7 linked regions of the Homo sapiens genome follow. The protein of the gene in region 3 purifies or fractionates together with the protein of the main gene of each other region. This does not show direct contact. Each region holds a gene or a part of one and is shown on either strand. Other genes may lie near its edges.

Evidence for each region.
Region 1: the proteins of C5AR1 (region 3) and ATP2B2 purify together in Homo sapiens (affinity purification with mass spectrometry; one large-scale study listed by BioGRID and IntAct). This does not show direct contact.
Region 2: the proteins of C5AR1 (region 3) and CIP2A purify together in Homo sapiens (affinity purification with mass spectrometry; one large-scale study listed by BioGRID and IntAct). This does not show direct contact.
Region 4: the proteins of C5AR1 (region 3) and MFSD8 purify together in Homo sapiens (affinity purification with mass spectrometry; one large-scale study listed by BioGRID and IntAct). This does not show direct contact.
Region 5: the proteins of C5AR1 (region 3) and TMEM161A purify together in Homo sapiens (affinity purification with mass spectrometry; one large-scale study listed by BioGRID and IntAct). This does not show direct contact.
Region 6: the proteins of C5AR1 (region 3) and RMND1 purify together in Homo sapiens (affinity purification with mass spectrometry; one large-scale study listed by BioGRID and IntAct). This does not show direct contact.
Region 7: the proteins of C5AR1 (region 3) and ATP1A3 purify together in Homo sapiens (affinity purification with mass spectrometry; one large-scale study listed by BioGRID and IntAct). This does not show direct contact.

The regions. Positions count from the first base shown.
Region 1 is NC_000003.12:10,499,087-10,502,586, reverse strand, and holds part of ATP2B2 (plasma membrane calcium-transporting ATPase 2), read left to right. Parts: intron 1-3,500. UniProt on the Homo sapiens protein: ATP-driven Ca(2+) ion pump involved in the maintenance of basal intracellular Ca(2+) levels in specialized cells of cerebellar circuit and vestibular and cochlear systems.
Region 2 is NC_000003.12:108,554,939-108,558,438, reverse strand, and holds part of CIP2A (protein CIP2A), read left to right. Parts: intron 1-1,024; coding exon 1,025-1,221; intron 1,222-3,500.
Region 3 is NC_000019.10:47,319,861-47,322,566, reverse strand, and holds the end of C5AR1 (C5a anaphylatoxin chemotactic receptor 1), read right to left. Parts: coding exon 1,737-2,706; 3' UTR 501-1,736; downstream 1-500.
Region 4 is NC_000004.12:127,944,674-127,948,173, forward strand, and holds part of MFSD8 (major facilitator superfamily domain-containing protein 8), read right to left. Parts: intron 1-3,500. UniProt on the Homo sapiens protein: Outward-rectifying chloride channel involved in endolysosomal chloride homeostasis, membrane fusion and function. Conducts chloride currents up to hundreds of picoamperes.
Region 5 is NC_000019.10:19,135,679-19,139,762, forward strand, and holds the start of TMEM161A (transmembrane protein 161A isoform 1 precursor), read right to left. Parts: upstream 2,801-4,084; 5' UTR 2,751-2,800; coding exon 2,748-2,750; intron 1-2,747. UniProt on the Homo sapiens protein: May play a role in protection against oxidative stress. Overexpression leads to reduced levels of oxidant-induced DNA damage and apoptosis.
Region 6 is NC_000006.12:151,445,627-151,449,126, forward strand, and holds part of RMND1 (required for meiotic nuclear division protein 1 homolog), read right to left. Parts: intron 200-3,500; 5' UTR 186-199; coding exon 1-185. UniProt on the Homo sapiens protein: Required for mitochondrial translation, possibly by coordinating the assembly or maintenance of the mitochondrial ribosome.
Region 7 is NC_000019.10:41,977,231-41,980,730, forward strand, and holds part of ATP1A3 (sodium/potassium-transporting ATPase subunit alpha-3), read right to left. Parts: intron 1,569-3,500; coding exon 1,376-1,568; intron 1,097-1,375; coding exon 921-1,096; intron 843-920; coding exon 706-842; intron 1-705. UniProt on the Homo sapiens protein: This is the catalytic component of the active enzyme, which catalyzes the hydrolysis of ATP coupled with the exchange of sodium and potassium ions across the plasma membrane.

The sequences.
Region 1 (3,500 bases), on a different chromosome or scaffold from region 3:
AAAGGAAACTGTGGCCCAGCCAGGCACAGGGACTTGTCCAAGGTCACACCGTGTTCTGTAGAGACCTGGGCTTCTTGCAAGTGCTCTCAGGCCCCAGACAAGAAGCAGCAGAGGCCTGTGTTGGCCCCTGGTTTTCCCCAGGTGTTTGACTGTGGGTGGAAAGTATGAGAGCCCTGGGCCCAGCCCTGCTCCTGACCAGCTGTGTGATCTTGGCCAAGTCACTTCCTCTCTCTGCCCTCAATCTTCTCATCTGTGGCCAGGCAGGCCTATCTCTGCCCTGTTTTATGCCACAGCTGCCAGAGAGCCCTGGACACTGTAGAGGGCTGTGCACGAAGGTGTGATTGGCATCAGGATCAGGAGCCGGAGCAGGTGAGCACCTTGCTGCTGCAACTGGCCAACTCTGAGATCAGAAAGGGAAAAAAGGAAAGAAATCTCTAGTTTGCAGATCGGAGGTCAGAAAAGCTGCCTGTGGCTTATGCTATGTGCAGAGCCTGAAACACTGGCCCATCCGCCTGCTGTCCCACTGCCCTCCTCTGCCTTCCCCCTGCCCAGCCACAGGTATGGGTCAGGAAACCCATTAATGCATTAATTAACCTAAAGATCACCTGATGGGGGCAGATTTCTGGGCCCTACCTTGATGAATCAGGAGGTCCCAGGGGCTACATTTCCACAGGTACCCCTGGGTTTTCACCCATTTCACTCCGCACCCTGGGGAGCTGAGGTGCTTAAGAGTGGGCTTGGTGGAGCACATAGGCGCTCAGAGCTGGGGGTGGCCTAGACACCATGCTGTTCTGCCTGTACCTGTCACACGTGGGGAAACTGAGGTCTCCAGCCTAGTGGGTGACTGAATGAGACTGAAACTCATTTCCTCTCCCCACCAGTCCCCTACCAACCCCTAGCCCCTGGCTTCACCCTGCACAGCTAAATCAGGCCCTCCTGAGGACCGATGAACCCTCAAATCCAAAACAAGGCCATCTTCTCAGCAGACAGCTGGGAGCCATGCTCCAAGGGCACTCTCCAAGACCCCATCTCTACAAAAAATTTAAAAATTAGCAGGGTGTGGTGGCATACTCCTGTCGTCCCAGCTATGCAGGAGGCTGAGGTGGGAGGATCGCTTGAGTCCGGGAGGTCAAGGCTGCAGTGAGCCGTGATTGTGCCACTGCACTCCAGCCTGGATGACAGAGCGAGACCCTGTCTCAAAAAAAAAAAAAAACCGTTTAAAAAATGGGTTATGCTATGGAAAACTCCTGGGACCTCCTGCTGGGCAGTGTGGCTTCGGCTTCACCCCGGTCTTCACTTGACAGTCTGGATGGAGGCGGCGGGAGGCAGGGGGAAGCGGGAGTGACGGTAAAAGCCTTAGAAGTGTCATTCACAGTCTAGGAAATCTCTGCAGGGTCAGAGAGTTCCAGATATGTGGCCAGAGACCACGGCTGGCAGGACCAGGAGGGCAAGTGACCAGGCCCGAGCAGGGGCCACAGCTCAGGTTCCTAAAGAAACAGAGGTCCCTGGGTATGGGGGAGAGTGTGTTGGTCTGAGGGTCAGGAGAGCTGGGTCCCAGGCCGGCTCATCACTGGCGAGTGACCTTGGAAAAGCTGTGTAAGCCCTCTGGTCCCAAGCTCTCCCCTTGTGAGAGGGGTCAGTGATCCTGCCCCCCAGTGTCCTTGGTGAGGGCAGCTTCTCCTGCCCACTGCCCCTTGGGGTGAAGGGTCAGAAACACTGCAAGTCTCAGGAAGTAGCAAGGAGAGCAACTGCAGGGACAGCCCGTTGTGTTTGTTTTCTGTGGCTGCCATAACAAATGACCACAGGCTAGGTGGCTTCAAACAACAGACGTGTATTGTCTCCCACTTCTGGAAGCCAGAAGTCTAGAGTCAGGAGCCAGCAGGGTTGGCTTTTCCTGGAGAGGCTGAGGAAGAGCCTGTCCCTTGTCTCCCTAGCTACGGGCAGTGGCCAGCAACCCTTGCTCTTCCTCACCTTGTGGCTGCGTCACACCCATCTCTGCTTTCATCTTCACCTCACTCCTTCCTGTGTGTCTCTCGGTGTCCTCTCCTCTGCTTCTAAAGACATTGGTCATTGGATTTAGGGCCCAACCTAGACCCAAGATGATTTCATCTCAAAATCCTTAGCTAATTCCATCTGCAAAGATCCTATTTCCAAACAAGGTCACATTCTGAGGTTCCAGGTGGGCATGAACTTTGGATAGGACACCGTTCAACCCACTGCAGTCACTAAGATTTATGAGGTGTTTATTGCTCATAAGACCTGCACACAGTCTTATCTCTTCTTCACCATCACCCATTTTCCGGATTACAGAAACCAGGGCCCAGAGACATTAAGAATGTGCCCAAGTCAGGCCAGGCGCAGTGGCTCATACCTGTAATCCAAGCACTTTGGGACGCCAAGACAGGTGGATCACCTGAGGTCAGGAGTTCGAGACCAGCCTGGCCAACATGGCAAAACCCCGTTTCTACTAAAAATACAAAAAAAGTTAGCCGGGCCTGGTGGTGCATGCCTGTAATCCAGCTACTCAGGAGGCTGAGACAGGAGAATCATTTGATCCTGGGAGGTGGAGGTTGCAGTGAGCCAAGATGGAACCATTGCACTCTAGCCTGGGTGACAGAGTGAGACTCTATCTCAAAAAAAAAAAAAAAAAAAAAAGAATGTGCCCAAGTCACACAGCAAGTGAGGGGCAGAGCTGGGATTTGAACCCAGGTCCCTGGTGCTCCTTCACCTTTCCACCTTTTTGTAGCTGGCTGGGGGATGCCCAGAGACCCCTTAGGGCCCACAGCTAGGAATCCATGGGGCAGGAATTCCAGCCAGCCCTATGAAGACCCCAGGTCTGCAGGGGCTCCTGGGCACCAGAGAGAGGCTGGAGACAGGCAGGGGAGCTTCAAGGTGTGAAGGGGCCCAGCCGTGGTCCCAGGAGACCAACATGTGGCAGAGGATTGAGAGCCACAGTTCCTTGTCTCTGCCACTGACTCTGTGAACGTCATTGTGCTCTTCCGGAGAATAGGGGCAGCAGCACTGACTTTATGGGGTAATTGCCAAGTACCGAAATGTTCATCATAATAGTACTAATCGCTAAAATGTGTCCGCAAGCACTTTACAAATGCTTTTTGTTTTCCCATGTAATGCGTGGGAGGGGAATTGCTTATTCAGTCATGTGCGTTCGGTTGTGTGTGGTTGAACCAGTGACTTCGCCTCAGTTTGCTCCTCCGTAAACCAAGGGTTAGCTGAGCACCCATCTTCCCGGTTGTCACGTGAGGCAAACAGGATCCAAGTACAGGGCTTGGCCCGGGTGTGGTCCAGGTAGAGGCTCAGCGGATGTTTTCTTGCCTGTAAGATGGGATAGTGGTAGTATTATGATGATGCTATTATTTGTTGTATGAGGATTTGGTGAAGTAATGCAAAGGAAGCACTTGGCTCAGGGCCTCGCCAGAAATTGATGGAAAGTGGCCTCCTTTGTGGCATCAGAAAGATTTGAGTATAAATCCTAATGCCAG
Region 2 (3,500 bases), on a different chromosome or scaffold from region 3:
CAGTAATATGAAATTCCCAGCAGATACAAATGGAATCTATACAACTTGATATTATTTATAATGAATGAATTATAATAAAGTGTTCCTGGCTTTTGAAAGATGCATCAAAATAAGTGACTAGTAAAATGCCTCTTAAGTCTCTTCAGAATAATGGTATTCTTTTTTTCCCCCATATTTCTTTCTTTTTTGCTTATTTTAACATGGTTTCATTTGTCTTAACTGGTATGTTGAATTTGTCACAAATTACAAGAAAGAACATTAGTGATATTAAAATAATTTTTCCCTCTCCCCATAGCACATTCTTATATTTTCTGTCTGTTGGACATGTCTTGTATTTTATTAGAGAGTTTAATATTTTATTCATGTTACTGGAAAAGTTCTTATAAAAATAGCACTAAATAACTGGATACAGGTTCTTCACAAAGTCGTAAAAACAGAGAAAGGCTTAGGGTTTTGTCTAGCATTGTAAAATAAAATCCAAAGGGCTGGGGGGAACCAACTTTTTATTCTAGCGACTTTTCTGCTTTTTTAGTGTTTCATATCACATAATAAATACATGCAGGTTATGGTATAGGTTACATTCTTTGATTATACTAGCTTAATTTTAAGTGTTTGATTAAGCATCTGTGATGTCGTTAAGATTTTGTTCTTAATTCTCACCTGAAATGAGAATGCTGATGGTGTGCACACTTAGCAGTTTAGTGTTAATGGCTACCTCTGAGGACCATACCTTTTTAATTGAATACTGTATGTAGCGCGACCTTCATGTTGCTGCAGTTGTATCCATTTCCATTAATTTGATCATAGTGAGATTGTTTTTATCAGATAATGTATTAAGTTAAAAAAATATAACAGTATCCAACTTATTAGAAGTAAAGTCCTAAGTATATGTGACTAATACAGCTTTGCATGACCCAACAGATACCAGCTTATTAGATACTTAGTAAACTTTTAAATTGTAGGTATGTGTTGAGCATATGATATAGATGATAGTGGTAAAGTCTATCTTCTTTTTTTTTTTGAGGCACGGACACTTGCTAGTATGTTGAGAGAAGTTGAGAGAAAAAATGAAGAGCTTAGTGTGTTGCTGAAGGCGCAGCAAGTTGAATCAGAAAGAGCGCAGAGTGATATTGAGCATCTCTTTCAACATAATAGGAAGTTAGAGTCTGTGGCTGAAGAACATGAAATACTGACAAAATCCTACATGGAACTTCTTCAGAGGTAAATAAAGTAAAATCTTCTGTGTAAGGTTAGAACCTAGAATGAACATGCAGCATTTCTTTTCTGAGACCCGAAAATCCTTTTGTAAGCATTTCATATATTCTGATAACACATGAGGTAAGTAATTAGCAAGAAACTTAAGTCATTGTGAAATGAAGTGTTGCTTCCTCAAACTCAGTATCAATGTTGGAAACAAAATACAGGTCTTTCCAGTTGACTTCTTTTATGTATTCATAACAGTCAGCAGTCATTTGGGAGATAAGCTCCACAAGGACAAGTTTGTCTGTTTTGATCACTGACAGATCCCTAGGGCCTGTAGGAGTGCTTGCTGCATAGTTAGGCACTTCATTAATAATTTTTAAATAAACTTAGTTGTCAAATTAGTATTAGGTTGAATGGTCATTTCTGCAGATCAAAAGTAGTTGAATATTGGCAATTTCATATCATTCTGCCTAATAGAATGGAAATTTAGGTGTAAGTGTTTAACTCATCTCTTAATATCCTTGATTATAGTTTACTTCCATGTGTGATTACATCTGTAGAATAAGTTCACATAGGTGAATTGCTAAGTTAAAGGGTATGTATATTTAATATTTTGATAGATATTTCTAAATTTTCCTCCAAAATGTGATACAGATTGAGTGTCCTTTTTGAACACAATGGTAGCACTCAAAAAGTTTAATATTTTGGAGCACTTTTGATTTTAGACTGATTTTGGATTTTCAAATTAGTGTTGCTCAACCTGTACCAATTTGTGTGCCTACTAGCAAAGTTTGATTGGTTTTTCCTCCCTTATAAACTCTTTTATCTTTTTAGGCCAGTTGTAAAACTTCTGAATTACAGGGAAGACCAGGAACAATTATGTATTTTCTACCAACCCATAAAAGTAAATACACTCTGGGGGAACTTGTTTATTGCTTTATATTTTAAGATTGTTCTATGTTGTTAATACAGAGATATAGAAATTTTTAGCTTGGCATGGTACATATGCTTATTTCCCATCAATAATAATGAAGGGTGAGAAATGAATAGTATCTAGAAAATGATGACAAAGTGATTTTTTAACAGGATATTTACCCCAGCAACTTTTTACAAAGTCTGATTGTTTGAGGCACCACTGATAAAGTGTAGTATTAGTGATAAGCCAAGTTGAGAACGTCAGCAGTGAAGAAAATACGTTATAGAACTGAAATGGGTTCCATTTGCTCAATACAGTAAAACCAGGTATCTGCACCAAGGTTTGCAGTGATAGAAAAAAAGGCTTTTACTGCAGGGTGCCAAGTAAGGAGGAGCAGGCAGCCAAATGCTCAAATACTGACCTCCCCAATAGCTTGCAAGCAAGGATTTTTAAAGGCGAGTAAATTTCAGGAAAGTGGAAGTTACAGACAAAAATCATAAATAAATAGTTAAAGGTTATACATTGGTTTAAGTTTAAAGGACAGGATATTGTGAAGCAGGGGCTTACAGGTCATGGGTAGACCCAAAGATTTTTCGATTTGCAGTTGGTTAAGGAAGAGCAGCTTTGTTTAAACATTTGGGGTCAGTAGAAAAATGTTAACTAGCTAGGGAGAGTGACTTTGTTCAAGACCCTGAGAAAGAAACTTAGAACAAAGAACAGTGGTTAAAATTCAGCCTTCATTTTCTCCTTACCTGAGCTCTACTTGTCAATGGATCTGGTCAGTGGGCTTCCTCAATGAGGGTCCGGGTCTCTGAAATACAACTCAGGGACATGTGTTAAGTTGTTTTCTTTAAGTTCTATAAAGAATCAAGTATCACTGGTACTCTTAAGTTTGTTAACTTTGATTTAGGCTACTATTACCTTCCTGTTTAACAAGTTACTTATTTACTTCTAGGGCTATCTAGGTCCCTGGAATTTCCCTTGAGTGAACTCAGGATTTTCCTTTATTTTCCAGCTTGAGGTCCTCAGACCTCCTAAAAAGGGGATACCTGCTTTGTCTCACATAGAGAACCTAAGAGATAGGCAGCGTCCAAGAAAAATACGTGGTTTCTAAGACCTGCTTATGTTCCAGCTAGTGATTTAGGGGCTAGAAGGTGAAATTCCTTGAATGGACAAGTGGATAACATGTAAATGAAGCTGGCTGGGGAAAAGGTCATTTGTAATGGTCAGGACTGTCTAAAGGCACTCAAACTCAGATTGTTAAAATTCCTGTATGGATTAGATACAAAAACTGCTGGCCAAGTTTGGCTACTGGTTTTTTTTGTTTGTTTTGGTTTGGTTTTTGGGTTGCTTTTTAAAAATCTTTGTGCTTAGTGAAATA
Region 3 (2,706 bases):
CCCAAAGTGCTGGGATTACAGGCATGAGCCACCACAGCTGGCTGGTCTGCACGCTATTTCTAGATAATCCATGCACATGCACACTACACAATCAAAGCAGAAATATTGTGATATGGTTTGGCTGTCTCCCCACCCAAATCTCAATTTGAATTGTATCTCTCAGAATTCCCATGTGTTGTGGGAGGGACCCAGGGGGAGATAATTGAATCATGGGGTCCGGTCTTTCCCTTGCTATTCTTGTGATAGTTAATAAGTCTCACAAGATCTGATGGGTTTCACAGTAGTTTCCACTTTTGCTTCTTCCTCATTTTCTCTTGCCACTACCATGTAAGTAGTGCCTTTGCCTCCTGCCATGACTGTGAGACCTCCCCAGCAATGTGGAACTGTAAGTCCAATTAAATCTCTTTTTTCTTCCCAGTCTTGGGTATGTCTTTATCAGCAGTGTGAAAATCGACTAATACCTACTGCAAAGTCAATTATTCACTAGAAATAACACAACATTTCAATATTCATTTTTATTTTCCTCATTAAAGTCATGTATACTTTTTTTTTAAGCTCAAAACAGGTTACATACTATATGATTCCATTGAATAACATTCTTGAAATGACAACATTATAGAAATGGAGAGTGGATTCCTGGTTGCCAGGGGTTAGGGACACGGCTGGGGTGTGGGGGTGGAGGGAAGTGGGCATCCTGGGGATCCCTGTGGTGATGAGAATGTCCTGTATCTTCACTGTATCAATGTCAATATCCTGGTTATGAGACTACATTGTAGTTTTGCAAGATGTTGCCATTGGGGGAGGCTGGGTGAAGGGTACACAAGATCCCTCTGTATCATTACTTACAATTGTGTTGAGTTTGCAATGATCTCAAAATAGAAAGCATAATTTAAAAACAAAGTACAAACAAAACTGCAGGTTTTTTAGGTGTTTTTGTTTTTGTTTTTGCTTTGCTTTTGAGACAGAGCCTCCCTCGGTCACCCAGGCTAGAGTGCAGTGGTGCGATCATGGCTCACCACAACCTCCACCTCCAAGTTCGAGCAATTCTCCCACCTCAGCCTCCCAAGTAGCTGGGATTACAGGCACCCACTACCATGCCCAGTTAATTTTTTGTATTTTTAGTACAGACGGGGTTTCACCATGCTGGCCAGCCTGGTCTGGAACTCTTGACCTCAGGTGATCCACCCACCTTAGCCTCCCAAAGTTCTGGGATTACAGGCGTGAGCCACTGCTCTCAGCCTAATTTTCTTTTTTAAATTAACTCACTTACAAGAGCTTAGATAACTCCATGGACTTCTGTTTTGTCCCAAAGAACTTTTGAGATTCCAGTTACATATTTTCCAACTTGCCATAAAATAAATACATTTTTTTTAAGCGAGAATCTTTCTACTTGTCTGTATTCTGAGTTCCCTGTTCACACCTATTGCCATATGGAAATATCCCAGATACACGGGTTTCTGTTTGTTTTTCAAAAGCCTGGGATGGAAAGATGGTGTGTGTGGGGGGGGTGGGGGGTGGGAGGGTGCTCCCTAGAAGGAAGTGTTCACCTTGCAAATGAGGAAGGATGAGAAGAGTCCCGCTGGAAAAGGAGGGACAAGTCTGGGAAAGACAGGCAACATGGAGGAGAGTTAGTTAGCTAAGGTAACACCATCCCACGAAAAGTGAAGTGAAAACAAGAGGGAGAATGGCCGGGAAGGAAGGGGACATCGGGCCACAGTGGCCCATGAGGCTGTCGCCTACACTGCCTGGGTCTTCTGGGCCATAGTGTCCACTGTGGAGCGCGTGAATGACTTGCTCTCCCTAACCACGGACTCTTCAGTCAACACGTTCCGGAGGAGGCTGGGGAGGGATTTCCGCAGTCGGCCCTGGAAGCCCTGGCCGGCCACCACGTAGATGATGGGGTTGATGCAGCAGTTGATGTAGGCAAAGGAGACACACAGGGAGTCCAGCTTCTTCAGCAGCAGGAAGGTGGGTGACGATGGCTCCAGGAAGGACATCATTATCCCCGTCACCTGGTAGGGCAACCAGAAGATAAAGAAACTGGCCACCACTGCCACCACCACCTTGAGTGTCTTGGTGGACCGCGTGGCCCTGCGGCTCCACGTCCGGAGCAGGATGAAAGTGTAACAAATCGTGAGCGTGAGTAGAGGCCACAGGAAGCCCAGGACCAGCCGGACGATGGCCACGGCTCGCTCCCGCCGTTTGTCGTGGCTGTAGTCCACGCCACACAACACCTTTGGTGGAAAGTACTCCTCCCGGACCACCCGGTACAGGAAGGAGGGTATGGTCAGCAGCAGGGCTAAACCCCAAGCCACGGCACAGGCGATCCAGGCCAAGCCAGCCCCTCGGAAGTTCTGGCACCAGATGGGTTTAAACACCAGCAGAAAGCGGTCGGCGCTGATGGTGGCCAGGAGCAGGATGCTGGCGTACATGTTGAGCAGGATGAGGGAGGGCAGGATGCTGCAGGCGGCCCCGCCAAAGGGCCAGTGGTGATGCTGTACAATGGACGTGAACAAGATGGGCAGCGCCAGGCAGGAGAGGAAGTCGGCTACCGCCAAGTTGAGGAACCAGATGGCATTGATGGTCCGCTTGGCCTCGAATGCCGTCACCCAGACCACCAGGGCATTGCCCAGCACTCCCACCAGGAAGACGACTGCAAAGATGACCAAGGCCAGGATGTCTGGAACACGCAGCGTGTTAGAAGTT
Region 4 (3,500 bases), on a different chromosome or scaffold from region 3:
TTTTTGAGACAGGGTCTCACTCTGACATCCAGGCTGGAGCGCAGTGGTCCGATCACGGCTCAGTGCAGCCTCGACCTTTGAGGCCCAAGTGATCCTCCTGCCTCAGCCTCTTGAGTAGCCAGGACTACAGGTATGCACCACCATGCCCACCTAATTTTTTTATTTTTGTAGAGACAGGGTCTCCCTATGTTGCCCAGGCTGGTCTTGAACTTCCCGCCTCCAACTCTCAAAGCAATCCTCCTGCCGCGGGAGGGAGGAATTCTCCCACCTTGGCCTCCCAAAATATTGGGATTAGTGGCATGAGCCACCGCACTCAGCCAGATTACTTTTTTTCATATGTGGTAGGCTAAGCCAGGCGAAGTGGCCCATGCCTGTAATCTCAGCTACTCAGCAGTCTAGAGTAGAAGGATCCCTTGAGCCCAGGAGTTGGAGGCTGTAACACACTATGACTGTACCTGTGAAAAGCCACTGCACTCCAGTCTGGGCAACATAGGAAGATTCTATCTCTAATCTTCCTATTTAATGGCTTTTATTAAATTTTAGGAAATAAATTTAAACAAATATAGATAAGTGGTAGAACAATTTAATAAGGAAAACTATGACCTTTTGTTCCCTAAAGATATTTATTTATTTATTTTATTTTATTTATTTATTTACTTTTGAGACGGAGTTTTGATCTTGTTGCCCAGGCTGGGGTGCAATGGTGCGATCTCAGGTCACTACAACCTCTACCTCCCAGGTTCAAGCGATTCTCCTGCCTCAGCCTCCCAAGTAGCTGAGATTACAGGCATGTGCCACCACGTGGGCACAGCTAATTTTTATATTTTTTTTAGTAGCGACGCGGTTTCACCATGTTGGCCAGGCTGATCTCTTAACTCCTGACCTCAGGTGAGCTGCCTGCCTTGGCCTCCCAAAGTGCTGGGATTGTTGGTGTGAGCCACCGTGCCTGGTAATTCCCTAAAGATATTTAAAGTGAAAATATTTAGGTGCGTTTTTCTTTATGAAAAAAATAAGAAATAATATGCAAAAGTATAATGATACATAATATTTAAAGTTCTAGCCGTTAAAATATCTTTCATTTTAGGTACTCTGGTTTTCATTTTCTTCCTGTATTACCTTTAGCTTCATTTGTCATCTCTACTAAAATAGAAAATAATAATTTCATGTTACATAAAATTTTAATTTTCAAAAAAGCAATGAAAACTCAATTTTAATGTTAAATGTGTAGTGGTTTGAAAGCAAAACTTTTTTTTTTTTTTTTTTCTGAGACAGGGTCTGGCTCTGTCACCCAGGCCAGAATACAGTGGCATAATCTTGGCTCACTGTAACCTCAAACTCCTTTGCTCAAGAAATCCTCCCAACTCAGGCTCCCAAGCAGCTGGGACTACAGGGAGTAGCACCACCATACCCAGATAACTTTTTAAATTTTTTTGTAGAGACGAGGTCTTATATCGTTACCCAGGCTGGTCTTGAACTCTTGGGCTCAAGCAATCCTCCCAACTTGGCCTCCCAAAGCGCTGGGATTACAGGCACGTGAGTCACAGCACTGGGCCTGATAGCAAGACTCTTTAAAGAGTTTTCAAAATATCTGGAGAAAAGAGAGTACTTTTCAAAACTCAACATAGTATGCTGAGTAGACCTAATCACTACTAATATCCTTCTTTTGAGAATTTTGACTAAAAAGACTAAATGCCAAGAAATTAAGAATTTTGATACATGAAAATATCTTTTTAGTAGAGAAGACGTTGCTCCAGAATTGTGCCAATTCCAATGACTACCAGCATGGAAAGAATTTTTAGTGTAATGGGTAATAATTTCATGTAATATTATTTTCAAAATAGCAATGAAAATATGGCACTAAACCAGTAAAAAGTAAAATTTGTATTTCTTTTCTTCTTATATTCCTTTAAAAATATATTTTAGGAGAGCATTTTCAAAAAGTAGAAATTCGTAAAAACTGGGCTGGGCATGGTGGCTCACACTTGTAATGCCAGCACTTTGAGAGGCTGAGGTGGTGGGTCACCCAAGGTCAGGAGTTTGAGACCAGCCTGGTCAACACAGTGAAACCCTGTCTCTACTAAAAATACAAAAATTAGCTGGGCGTGGTGGTGCACGACTGTAATCCCAGCTACTTGGGAGGCTGAGGCAGGAGAATCACTTGAACCTTGGAGGTGGAGGCTGCAGTGAGCCAAGATTGCATCACTGACCTCGAGCCTGGGTGACAGAGCGAGACTCCATTTACAAAAAAAACCACAAAAATTAAAAAAAAAAACAATCCTAACAATCTAGACAATCTAGTAGGGGAGTTAAGTAAACTCTCTGTAAATACAGTGTTAGGACACTCCATATTAAGGGCTAATGATAAAGGGAAACGGGAGTATACAGGAAAAGCTTCTGACCCAAATTGTTGTGAGGGACAGTGAGAGAAGCCTTTCCAGGCCAGGTGCAGTGGCTCACATCTGTAACCCCAGCAACTGGGGAGGCTGAGGCAGGATCACCTGAGGTCAGGCGTTCGAGATCAGCCTAGCCAACATGCCGAAAACCCACTTCTACTAAAATTATAAAAATTAGCCAGGAATGGTGGCGGGTGCCTGTAATCCCAGCTACTTGGAAGGCTGAGGCATGTGAATCGCTTGAACCCAGGAGGTGGAAATCCCAGCACTTTGGGAGGCCGAGGTGGGTGGACCACCTGAGGTCAGGTAGAGATCAGCCTGGCCGGTATGGTGAAACCCCGTCTCTACTAAAAATACAAAAATTAGCCGGGTGTGGTAGCTGGCGTCTGTAGTCCCAGCTACTTGGGAGACTGAGGCAGGAGAATCGCTTGAACCCTTAAGGCAGAGATTGCAGCGCACCAAGATCACGCCACTGCATGCCAGCCAGGGCAACAGAGCAAGACTCCATTGCAAAAAAAAAAAAAAAAACAGAGAGAGAGAGAAGGCTTTCCAGAGGAGGTGACACTGGAGCAAAACCTTGAAGAGTGAATAAAAGACAGTGAGGAAGGAGAAAGGGGAGAGCAAAAGAAAGATGGAGAGAGGAAAAGCATTCCAGTAAAAAGGGAGACAAATGTGTAAAGACCTGAGGAGCCTGGGTTCATCCAAGTACCATGGATTTATCTAATAAATTGTTGGCTATACATCTAATATGGGACAAAGTTCAGAATCTAGGATAAAACACACATATGCACGTGTGAACACACACACACACACACACACACACACACACACACTCTCTCTCCAACCTCATAGAAAAACCAACAAGGGATAAACTGATAAGGAAGAATACACAAAAGAATTTAAGAATAAGTCATTAGAGTTAAGAGGAAAGCCAGGATAGAGAAATGTCACAGAAGCTAAGAGGTGGTGCCATGGTTTGAATGTGTCCCCCAAATTTCATTTTTTGGAAATTAATATTTAAATTAATATTATTAAAATATTGAAAGGTAGGACCTTTAAGAAGTGACTGTGTTACATTAGGTAGCTAGTTGGGTATGAACAGGGCAG
Region 5 (4,084 bases), about 28 Mb from region 3:
TGATTCTCCCACATCAGCCTCCCTAGTAGCTGGGATTACAGGCACTCGCCACCATACCCAACTAATTTTTGTCTATTTTGTAGAGACAGGGTTTCTCCATGTTGCCAGGCTGGTCTTGAACTCCTAGGCTCAAGCAATCCTCCTGCCTTGGCCTCCCAAACGGTTGGGATTACAGGCGTGAGCCACTGTGTCCGGCCTATTTTTATTTTTATTTTTAGAGATGGGGTCTTGCTATGTTGTCCAGGCTGGTCTCAAACTCCTGGGCTCAAGTGATCCTCCCACCTCAACCTACCGAGTAGTTAGGACTACAGTCATGTGCCAACACACCCAGCTAAGGCTTTTTTTTTTTTTAATTAGGAATTTTCTCACCCAGTTCTTAATTCAGAACACATTTTCATATACTTATTTTTAAACGTTTTAGAAGAATCAGTCTGTGGTGAAGCTGGGTTTTCCTGCTTGAATGCAGTAAATACCCATTTGCTGCCAGTAATTACATAATTATGTAAAATTATGTGCTCAGGAGAGCTGTCTACTAGTGTTCTGGAATTATCATCAAAATGAAATAAAGTTTATTTAATAGTAAAATTAATTATGAAAATAATCCTTTAATCAGGCATAAATAAGCTAAATTTAGTCGGAAAAACCCTAATGTGATGGGTACCGGGCCTAGCACGGTAATTCAAAATGACTGCTGAGGCCAGGTGCGGTGGCTCGTGCCTGTAATCCCAGCATGTTGGGAGGCTGAGGCGGGCTGATCACTTGAGGTCAGGAGTTTGAGACGAGCCTGGCCAACATGATGAAACCTTGTCTCTACTAAAAATACAAAAATTAGCCAGACATGGTGGTGGGCGCCTGTAATCCCAGCTACTTGGGAGGCTGAGGCAGCAGAATTGCTTGAACCTGGGAGGCAGAGGTTGCAGTGAGCCGAGATTGTGCCACTGCACTCCAGCCTGGGCAACAGAGTGGGACTCTGTCTCAAAACAAAATAATAATAATAATAAAATAAAAATACATAAAATAACAGACTAATAGGACATTTTCTCTGTACCTGTGACTTGTAAACTGAGACCAGAAATCTTTTTTCAGTAATGAGGTTGGTGGCGGCATCTTTCTCATCTCTAAGTCCTCATTGCTCGCCCTCCCCGGGACCCTAGTGCAGACTGGCTGGCTGGCACTTAGGGACCATGAGTGCCAGCCCATGGGCCCCTGCAAGCCAGTGGGTCAGGGCTGTTGAAGCCCCACCCTTCCCCTAGGACCCTGCCCTCCCACCCCCCAGTCTGTTTTTCTCCTCTCTCTCCGACCTCTCTCCTGTGACCTGCCAGGGTTTTAACCACCCAATCAGCCAGCCCATCAAAACCTCAGCACGGTGACACCTCCAGCCCAGACCTCTCTGCTGAGCTCAACCAGTAGCCTCCTCCAGGCTCTCCTGGGAGACCCTAGCACTCACCCATCATCCCATACCCTTCCAGGTGGTTCAGGCCCTTCCCAGTCTCACAGTCAGCCCCCAACTTGGTTCTGCACCCTGCAGGCATAGCTAGAGACCATCCCTCCACCTCCCCACAGCTCAGCTCTCTCCTCAGCCCTCCCTGCACCCAACCACTGGAGTCTCAGAGGTCTTCCTGGACCTTTGGGCTCTTCATCAATGACCCCACCACCCCCCAAAACCCCCCAAGGGAAAAGGTGGTGGAGGGGTGCATCTCTCCACCTAAGGCTCCCAGAGGTCTGTCCAGGGATGTTCTGATGGCCCTGCCCTCCACCCAGCCTCCTGTCTCAGGGTCAGGGCTCTGCAGACATCTGCAAGAATTTTCTGGAGTCTTCCATCAGCTCCTTCTTTTCCCTTCACTGGATTTACGATTCTCGAACTCAAGAACCCTGATAAAATCAATGCAGCCTCCCTCCTCATTCCCGGGAGCCTGTGCCTTCATCTCCTACGGCGTCCTGCACCTCCGCCTGGGACGACGCCCCACTTTCAATAATTCCGGCCATCAGTGCCCTTCCTTCAGGGCCATCTCCAGCGCCCCTCCTCGGGGATGGTCCCAGGCAGAGACCCTCCAGTTCCACGTCCCTCTCTCTGCCCAGGCCGGTCCCGTCAGGGTTGTGGGAGTCCCCCATCTCCCTGCACCAGCCTGACCCCCAGGGGCTGGGCTAAGTTTTAAGAACACACTCAATAGGTTGGACCCAGAGCCGCGTGAGACCTGAAGGTTCCAACTTTCCTGTCTCCCACTCTGAGAACCTTGCCCGCCCTGAGGCCAACCAGACCTCCTGAGTCCACCTCCCACGGCCTCCCCTGCCCGTTCCACACACCCCGATATAGCAGGGACCCCCGATGGATCCTGTCGGCGCGGCCCCCACGCTCCTGCAGGACCCCCGTCCCCAGAGTGGACCCCCAACAGGACCCCACACCGCCTTAACCAGGTTCCAAATGTGCTGGGGTCCCCAGTCCCCTCTGTGGGACCACGACCCCTCAAAAGGATCCCAGACCCCTAAAAGGTCTCGAGGGCAGAATCCCCAGAACGCTTAGGGGCTTCTAGTCCCCCTGGGTACAACTCCCGCCGACTCCCTCGGAGGTCCTGTAGCGAGAGCAGGGCTCCCAGAGAGGGACACACGGCCTTCAGCGTGCCCCCGAATCCCTCAGAGCCTCCAATCCCCAAGAAGAAACCCCAATCCATTCCCTCAGTGTCTCCCTGGACCCCTTCGGCTGGACCTCGGCCCTGCAGAACCCCCCACTTCGCGGGACGCTCGCTCACCATGACGCGTGCGAGAACGCGGTGCACTCACCCACCGGCCTAGGGCTCCGGGCACTCTGCGGAAACTCGACCAATTAGAGCCCGACTCTGGTCTGACGAGCATCCCGTCCGACCAATCAGTGTGTCTTGAGCCGGCAAATCACCAGGGACGAGGAGGCCGCTCGCGTTGCATGCCGGAAATTGTAGTTCAGATACGCTGGTTCGGATCGATCAAAGTGAAGATTGTGTCTGGGAGGCCTGCGTGGCCGACCTCTCTTAAGGCTTAGTTTTCTCTTTCCTACACTTATCTCAAAGGTTTGCAGCGAAAGCATTTATTCCCACCTAAGGGACATTTCTGAGAGTAGAATTCCCTCCCCCCATCAAGAACATTCAATGGCTCCCACTTAGTAGACGAAGTACTTAGTACTCCTAAGTACTAAGTAGGCTAAGTACTCAGACTGAATTCAGACCCTTCTGCCTGACTTAAATCTGCTGCTAGCACTATTGTGCACCCTATAGTACAACTTGCACCCACCATGCTGTCTCATACCTCCAGGCCTTTGTAAATATCCTACATCTTGCAATGCCTTCAAGAATGCCTCAATCTTAAAATAAAAACAAAACAAAAGCAAAAAAGAATGCCTCAATCTTTTTCACCTGGCAAGTGCCTTATTCATCTCTATCAGCTAGGACTCTGGCTGTGCTCCACAAAATATCAACTAACATGGGTTCAAGCAAAAAAGGAAAATTTTTGGCTCATGTGACAGAAAATACTAGCCATAGTGTCAGCTTCAGGCGTGGCTGGATCAAGGACCAAATGTCAGCTTCAGGGATCTGATGTTCTTTATTTCACCGCTAGGAGGAAAGGGCTTCTGGTGTTTGTGCCCCGGTTTTGCCATTTGTCTTTCTGTGGATGAGTGTGTCTGCCTGAGTGTAGACATATATTGGGTATGACTGAGTGTCTGAGCATCTTTATGGGGGTGGGTTCCTGTGTGTGGGGCCTGAGTAATTACCTTTTCGTTTTTACATTTTATTATGTATTTGTGTATTAATTTTTTTTTTTCTTGAGACGGAGTTTCGCTCTTGTTGCCCAGGCTGGAGTGAAATGGTGTGATCTTGGCTCACCGCAACTTCCGCCTCTTGGGTTCAAGTGAGTCTCCTGCCTCAGCCTCCCGAGTAGCTGGGATTACAGGCATGCACCACCACGACTGGCTAATTTTGCATTTTTAGTAGAGATGAGGTTTCTCCATGTTGATCAGGTTGGTCTTGAACTCCCGACTTGAGGTGATCCGCCCACGTCGGCCTCCCAGAGTGCTGAGATTACAGGCGTGAGCCACCGGGCCTGGTTTATATTTTAT
Region 6 (3,500 bases), on a different chromosome or scaffold from region 3:
AAACCACTAGCTGTTTTATCAGGAAGGAACAAATCCAAGCTTTGACGTATTGTCAGTGTGCTGCATGTTGTATTTTCAAATTCCTTAAGTGGTTTTAACATTAGATGACCGATTCTTCGGCACTGATGTGCTTTTGATAATATATGATGAGATCTGGCCACGGCTCTGAGGAGTGTGGCTGGCATTACCACATCCCAAGCTAAAAGAAAAGGAATTCAAAGTTCAAGTTTTTAAATTAATGTTTAAAACATATATAATATTTCCCTAGGTAGCAGGCATATTTCTGTTAGAAAAATTTGTAAAACAGATACATTCTAAGTTAATTCTAGTAAAAGAACAAGGTTAAAAATATAAGTACAGTGTTTCTGCCACTTTGCCTTTAGCAACATTTGGCCTTCTTCCTGGAAGATTACAAGATTATAAAGCTACTGACATAACAAGAACCTTAAAAAAAATAGTGATGGGACCACTTCATTTACTTCATTAGCATATCAAGTATATAAAAATCTGTGCTGGCCAGGCACTGTAGCTCACACTTGTAATCCCAGCACACTGGGAGGCTGAGGCAGGTGGATCGCTTGAGTCCAAGAGTTCCAGACCAGCTGAGGCAACATGGTGAAACCTCATCTCTACAAAAATGACAAAAATTTAAAAATTAGCTGGGTGTGATGGCAGCTCATGCCTGTAGTCCCAGCTACTCACAGGCTGAGGTGGGAGGATCACTTGAGCCCAGAAGACTGAGGCTGCAGTGAGTCATGATTGTACCACTGCATTCCAGCCCTTTTTCTGTCTCAGGAAAAAAAAAAAAAAAATCAGGAAAGGTTCCCAGAAAGATCTAAGCTGATTCTAGAAGGCGAAGGTGCTTTTCAGCTTGGGGCTGGGCATGGGAGTGCGAGGCATGTCAGATACACACATGAACATTCCAGACAAGGTAAACAGAATTTCCCCCTTATTTACAGTATGAAATGTGTTATTTTAAAGTTAGCCTATAGTAGGCCACACATGGTGGCTCACGCCTGTAATCCCAGCACTCTGGGAGGCTAAAGGCTGGGGGGATCACTTGAGGCCAGGAGTTCAAAACCAGCCTGGCCAACATGGCAAAACCCCATCTCTACTAAAAATACAAAAAAAAATTAGCCAAGCATAGTGGCTTTAATCCCAGCTACTCAGGTGGCTGAGATATAGAATCGTTCAAACCAGGGAGGGAGAGGTTGCAGTGAGCCAGGATTGCCCCACTGCACTCCAGCCTGGGCGACAGAATGAGACTCTGTCTCAAAAAAAAAAAAAAGTTAGACCGTAGTAATCAATAATTCTTTTTTTAAAAATAATATGTTAGGTGCTAGAGATAGATGAATCAATGATCTCAGAATTCAAAGTCTAGCAGAGGAAAATGAACGAGATGCACAAATTGCTCTAGTCCAGAGAAAGGAGCATGTGAAGAGTGTGGCATTGTCACAGAGGTGACATTTGAACTGAGTCTTGAAAGGGCAGAAGGATCAGCAAGTTAAACACCCCAGGCATGGAGTCCTATTCATCTCCCCATCTCGGGGAGGTAGGAGTGAGCTGCAGGAGGTAAGGACCAAAAGAGCCGATGGCCAGATCACCAAAGGATATATAAAGTCATCCTAAAAAGTTTCTACAGGTGGGGAGAAAGCTGAGCTTTTAACTCAGAGTCACACGGTCAAATGCATGTTCATGAAACAAATTTTTGGTGATGATATGTAGGAGGAAACAAGACAGACTCTGACATCACTCTGAGCGCTTTCTACATGCTAAGTGCTCGGCTTCACCTCATAATGATCCCATTTCACTGATTAGGAAACTGAGGTTTAAAGAGGCTAAGTGCTCACCGTTAAGAAGCTGCAGAGATGTAACTAAAATAAAACCCAGGCTTTCCCAATTCCAAAGTCAACACTCTTACCCACTACCTTGTATTTACTACCTCTCTTCAGGATAAGGACAAAGATGATTCACAGTGATATTTAGGAGGTAGAACCTGCTGCTTCCAAAATCCCTTCAAAAGCTCGCATTCTGTGCTTCATTCTAGTCCAATTGGCTACTGTAGTTCACCTTTAATTAGTACTATGCCATGCCAGTTGAACCACTTAATTTTGAAGAAACTATAAAATATTTTAGAAGTTTGTCTACAGTCCTGGATTCTTTTTATTCTCTTTGAGTAAATTCTTTTTTTTTTTTTTTTTTTTGAGATGGGAGTCTCGCTCTGTCACTCAGGCTGGAGTGCAGTGGTGCCACCTCAGCTCACTGCAACCTCCGCCTCCCCGGTTCAAGCGATTCTCCTGCCTCAGCCTCCCGAGTAGCTGGGATTACAGGTGTCTGCCACCATGCCTAGTTAATTTTTTTGTATTTTTAGTAGAGACGGGGTTTCATTATGTTGGCCAGGCTGGTCTTGAAATCCTGACCTCAGGTGATCCACCTGCCTTGGCCTCCTAAAGTGTTGGGATTACAGGCGTGAGCCACCGGACCCAGCCCATTTTTATCACTGCACCTTCTAGAAAGCCTAAGATTACATTTGTGCCTTACACTGTTTTTCTATCAGACAGGGCCCTATTGTCATTATCAATACATCGGACCTCCTCATCTCAGTTTCATCCATTTTACTCTCTAAGCACCACCTCCTATCTTTGCATCTCACTCCTTCTATTACCCAATTCCAATAATTCTTCAACCCCAACAGGACCCACAAGTCAATGATCCAACCACCTTTTCACTGTCTCTCACTCCCCATGACTTCACTTCCTCCATATCCAGTTTACACTCCATGGTCTACCATTCTAACCTCTCCCTTATACCCCTAGAATCCCTTGCATCCCTTTCTTCCCAGTCTTTCCCATTCATGAGCAGTAATAAGTATCTTTATAACTGCTAAGCCAAAAACGTGGGGTCCAGCTTGACTCTTTATTCTCCATATCCAACTTCTCAGTAAATCCCAAGGGCCTTCTAGGGACCACTGCTCATCATCAGTAATAATACTACCTGATCCAAACTGCTATCCTTCCCATGGATTATTATAATAGCTTCTTAACCAGTTTTCCTGATTCTGTTTTGGGCCCCCTACAGTTTCTTCTCAACACAGCAACCAAAGTGATCCTTTGAAGTTGAATCTCAACGCGAAATCTAGCTGTGGCTTCACGGTTCACTTAATAAAAGCCAAAGCCCTCCAACCAGGCATGGCGGCTCACGCCTGTAATCTCAGCACTTTGGGAGGGATCACTTGGGGTCAGGAGTTCCAGACCAGCCTGGCCAACACGGCGAAACCCCGTGTCTACTAAAAATACAAAAATCAGCCGGGCATGGTGGCATGGGCCTATAATCCCAGTTACTTGGGAGGCTGAGGCACGAGAATGGCTTGAATCTGGGAGGCGGAGATTGCGCCACTGCACTCCAGAATGAGCAACAAAGCGAGACTCTGTCTCAAAAAAAAAAAAAAAAAAAAAAAAAAAGCCTGGCGCGGTGGCTCACGCCTGTAACCCCAGCATTTT
Region 7 (3,500 bases), 5.3 Mb from region 3:
TGACAGACAGACAGGAAAAAAGAGAGACAGACACAGAAGTACTGGATTCTACTGAATCCTCTGAGATAGGAATTATTAGTAGCCCATTTTAGAGATGGGCAAACTGAAGTTCATGGATGCTAAAGGACTTGCCCAATGTCACACAGCTTGTGAGCGGTATAAGCTGGAATGCAGGCCGGGCGCAGTGGCTCACGCCTGTAATCCCAGCACTTTGGGAGGCCAAGGCAGGTGGACCACCTGAGGTCAGGAGTTCGAGACCAGCCTGGCCAACATAGTGAAACCCCCGTCTCTACTAAAAATACAAAAAAAAAAAAAAAAAATTAGCGGGGCATGGTGGAGGGCCCCTGTAATCCCAGCTACTCAAGAGGCTGAGGCAGATAATTGCTTGAACCCGGGAGGCGGAGGCTGCAGTGAGCTGAGGTTGCCCCACTGCACTCCAGCCTGGGCGACAGAGCAAGACTCCATCTCAAAAACATAAATAAATAAATAAAATAAAATAAAGGCTGGGATGCAAACCTATGCCTGGCTACCTCTGTGGCTGCAATGTCCCCACACCGGAGGGAGGGCCAGACCCAGGGCCTGGTCCATGGAGGAGTCCCAGAAAGAATGGGACAGGCAGTGCAGAGGGAGGTTGGGGGGAAGCGGTCCCCCTGTGTCAACACCCTAGAGGGATGTCCAGGGCCCTGGCTGGGATGGGTGGCTCACCGGGGGTTAACCTGGCTGACGGGAATGTTGAGCCGGGCGGCGATGTCCTCCACAGTCTCGTTGCCCTCAGAGATGATGCCCACACCCTTGGCAATGGCCTTGGCCGTGATGGGGTGATCGCCGGTGACCATGATGACCTGCAGGCATTGTTTTTTAGGGATGGCCTCTCCCGCCCCACGCCTGGCTTTGCCTCCCCCAGCCACCCCAAGCCACACCTTGATGCCTGCGCTGCGACACTTGCCCACCGCGTCAGGGACGGCTGCCCGGGGTGGGTCGATCATGGACATGAGGCCCACAAAGCAGAGGTTGTCCGTGGTGAAGTTCACGTCATCACAGTCGAAGGCAAAGCCCTTGGGGAACTGCTCCTCGGGCAGGTAATAATGGCAGAAACCTAGTGGCAGGGAAGGGTTGGGGTGTGAGGGTCCCAGCCTCGGAACCTCCGCCCCATGCCCCTAGATGTCTGCATCGCCCGCATTCCATCTCCCCATCAGCAAGACGGCCAGTCAGCATTCATTTCCTAGGATACCTTCCCCTCTCATCCATCCATTCATTCATTCATTCATTCATTTACAGTATATTCTGGGAGGCCCTGGGCTGAGACAGGCTTTGGGCAGCATCACAACCCTCCTTGCCCTCCAGGGACCCCAGAGCCCGCCCGGCAGCCTCGCACCAAGCACGCGCTCGCCCAGGCCACCGAGCTCAAGGTAGGCATTCTGGAAGGCCTCCTTCATTTCCTCGTCCAGAGGCTGCTCCTTGCCCTGTAGCAGGATGGTGGAGCAGCGGTCCAGGATGCGCTCGGGGGCACCCTTCATCACCAGCAGGTATCGGTTGTCGTTGGGGTCCTCGGTCTCATGGATGGAGAGCTGGGGACCGATCAGAGGGTGGCGTGCCTGAGCCACGCAGACACCAGGAAGCTCCCTGCCCCATCCTGTCCCCTGTCCAGAGCCACGGGTGCCAGGATAGGCCCACACCAGGGCTCCCCCACACTCTCTCACAGAGACCTCTGCTCATTCCTGTCCGCTCTGTCTATGTCATGGATATATATTTCTTTTTCTTTTTCTTTTTTTCTTTTTTCTTTTTTTTTTGAGACAGAGTCTCGCTCTGTTGCCCAGGCTGGAGTGCAGTGGCACGATCTCAGCTCACTGCAACCTCCACCTCCTGGGTTCAAGCAATTCTCCTGCCTCAGCCTCCGGAGTAGCTTGGGATTACAGGCACCACCACCACACCCAGCTAACTTTTGTATTTTTAGTAGAGACGGGATTTTGCCATGTTGGCCAGGCTGGTCTTGAACTCCTGGCCTCAAGTGATCTGCCCTCATCGGCCTCTCAAAGTGCTGGGATAACAGGCATAAGCCACCACGTCTGTGCTCCCCTCCTCCCACCCTGTTTTTTTTTTTTAAGACAGGGTCTCACTCTGTCACCCAGGCTGGAGAACAGTGGCGAGATCACAGCTCACTGCAGCCTTGATCTCCCAGGCTCATGCGATCCTCCCGCTTCGGTCTCCCACGTAGCTGGGACCACAGGTCCACACCACCATGCCTGGCTAATTTTTTATAGAGACATGCTCTCCCTATGTTGCCCACGCTGGTCTCCATCTCCTGAGTTCAAGCGATCCTCCTGCCTCGGTCTCCCAAAGTGCTGGGATTACAGGCGTGAGCCACCACACCCAGCTGTATGCTTCCATTTTTATGAAATGTCCAGAATAGGCAAAACCATACGGACAGAAAGTAGGTTAGTGGTTGCTTAGGGCTGGGAGTGTCGGGGAGGAGGGGGCGGGTGACAGCTGAGAGATGTGGGGTTTCTTTTTGGAGGTGATGAAAATGCTCTAAAATTGACTATGTGGATGGCTGCCTATATCTGCGAATATACTAAAACTATTAAATTATACACTTAGAGGGACGAGCTATGGTATGTTAATTATATCTTAATAAAGTTATTTTAAAAGCTCTGAGTCAACTCCTGTCTCTCTTTGGCTGAGAGCCCCCTGGAGGCTTGTGTGCTCCTCAGAGTCACAGCCAAGTCCTCTCCATGCCCGTGGGGCCTGACAGGATCTGGCCAGCACCCACCACCCCCACCACGCTCCCTGGCTCCCAGCCCCTCTGCACTGGCTGGCTGGCTGGTGTTCAGATGCGTCAGCACACTCCCGCCTCTGGGCCTTTGCACAGGCTGTGCCTGCTACCGGAGCGCTCTTCCCCCAGACACCTGCAGGGTTCCCTCCCTCAGCACCACAACCACTACGATTACCTCCTCATGCCTTTGTTATTGTCTGTCTTCTAGAACCAGAGCGTAAGTCTCAGAGAGGGGTGACTTCACCATGTCACTCACTACTGTGTGTACACCCAGCACCCAAAACAGGGCCTAACATGTGGTGGCTGGTCAAAAAATGTATACTGAATGGGCCGGGCATGATGGCTTATGCCTGTAATCCCAGCACTTTGGGAGGCCGAGGTGGGTGGATCACTTGAGGTCAGGAGTTCAAGACCAGCCTGGCCAACATGATGAAACCCCATCAATACTAAAAATACAAAAACTAGCTGGGTGTGGTGGTGCACGCCTCTAATTCCAGCTACTCGGGAGGCTGAGATATGAGAATCACTTGAACCCAGAGACAGAGGTTGCAGTGAGCCAAGATCACACCACTGCCTTTTAGCCTGGGCGACAGAGCAAGACTCCATCTCAAAAAAAAGTTTACTGAGGCCGGGCGCGGTGGCTCATGCCTGTAATCCCAGCACTTTGGGAGGCTGAGGCGGGCAGATCACGAGGTCAGGAGATCGAGACCATCCTGGCTAACACGGT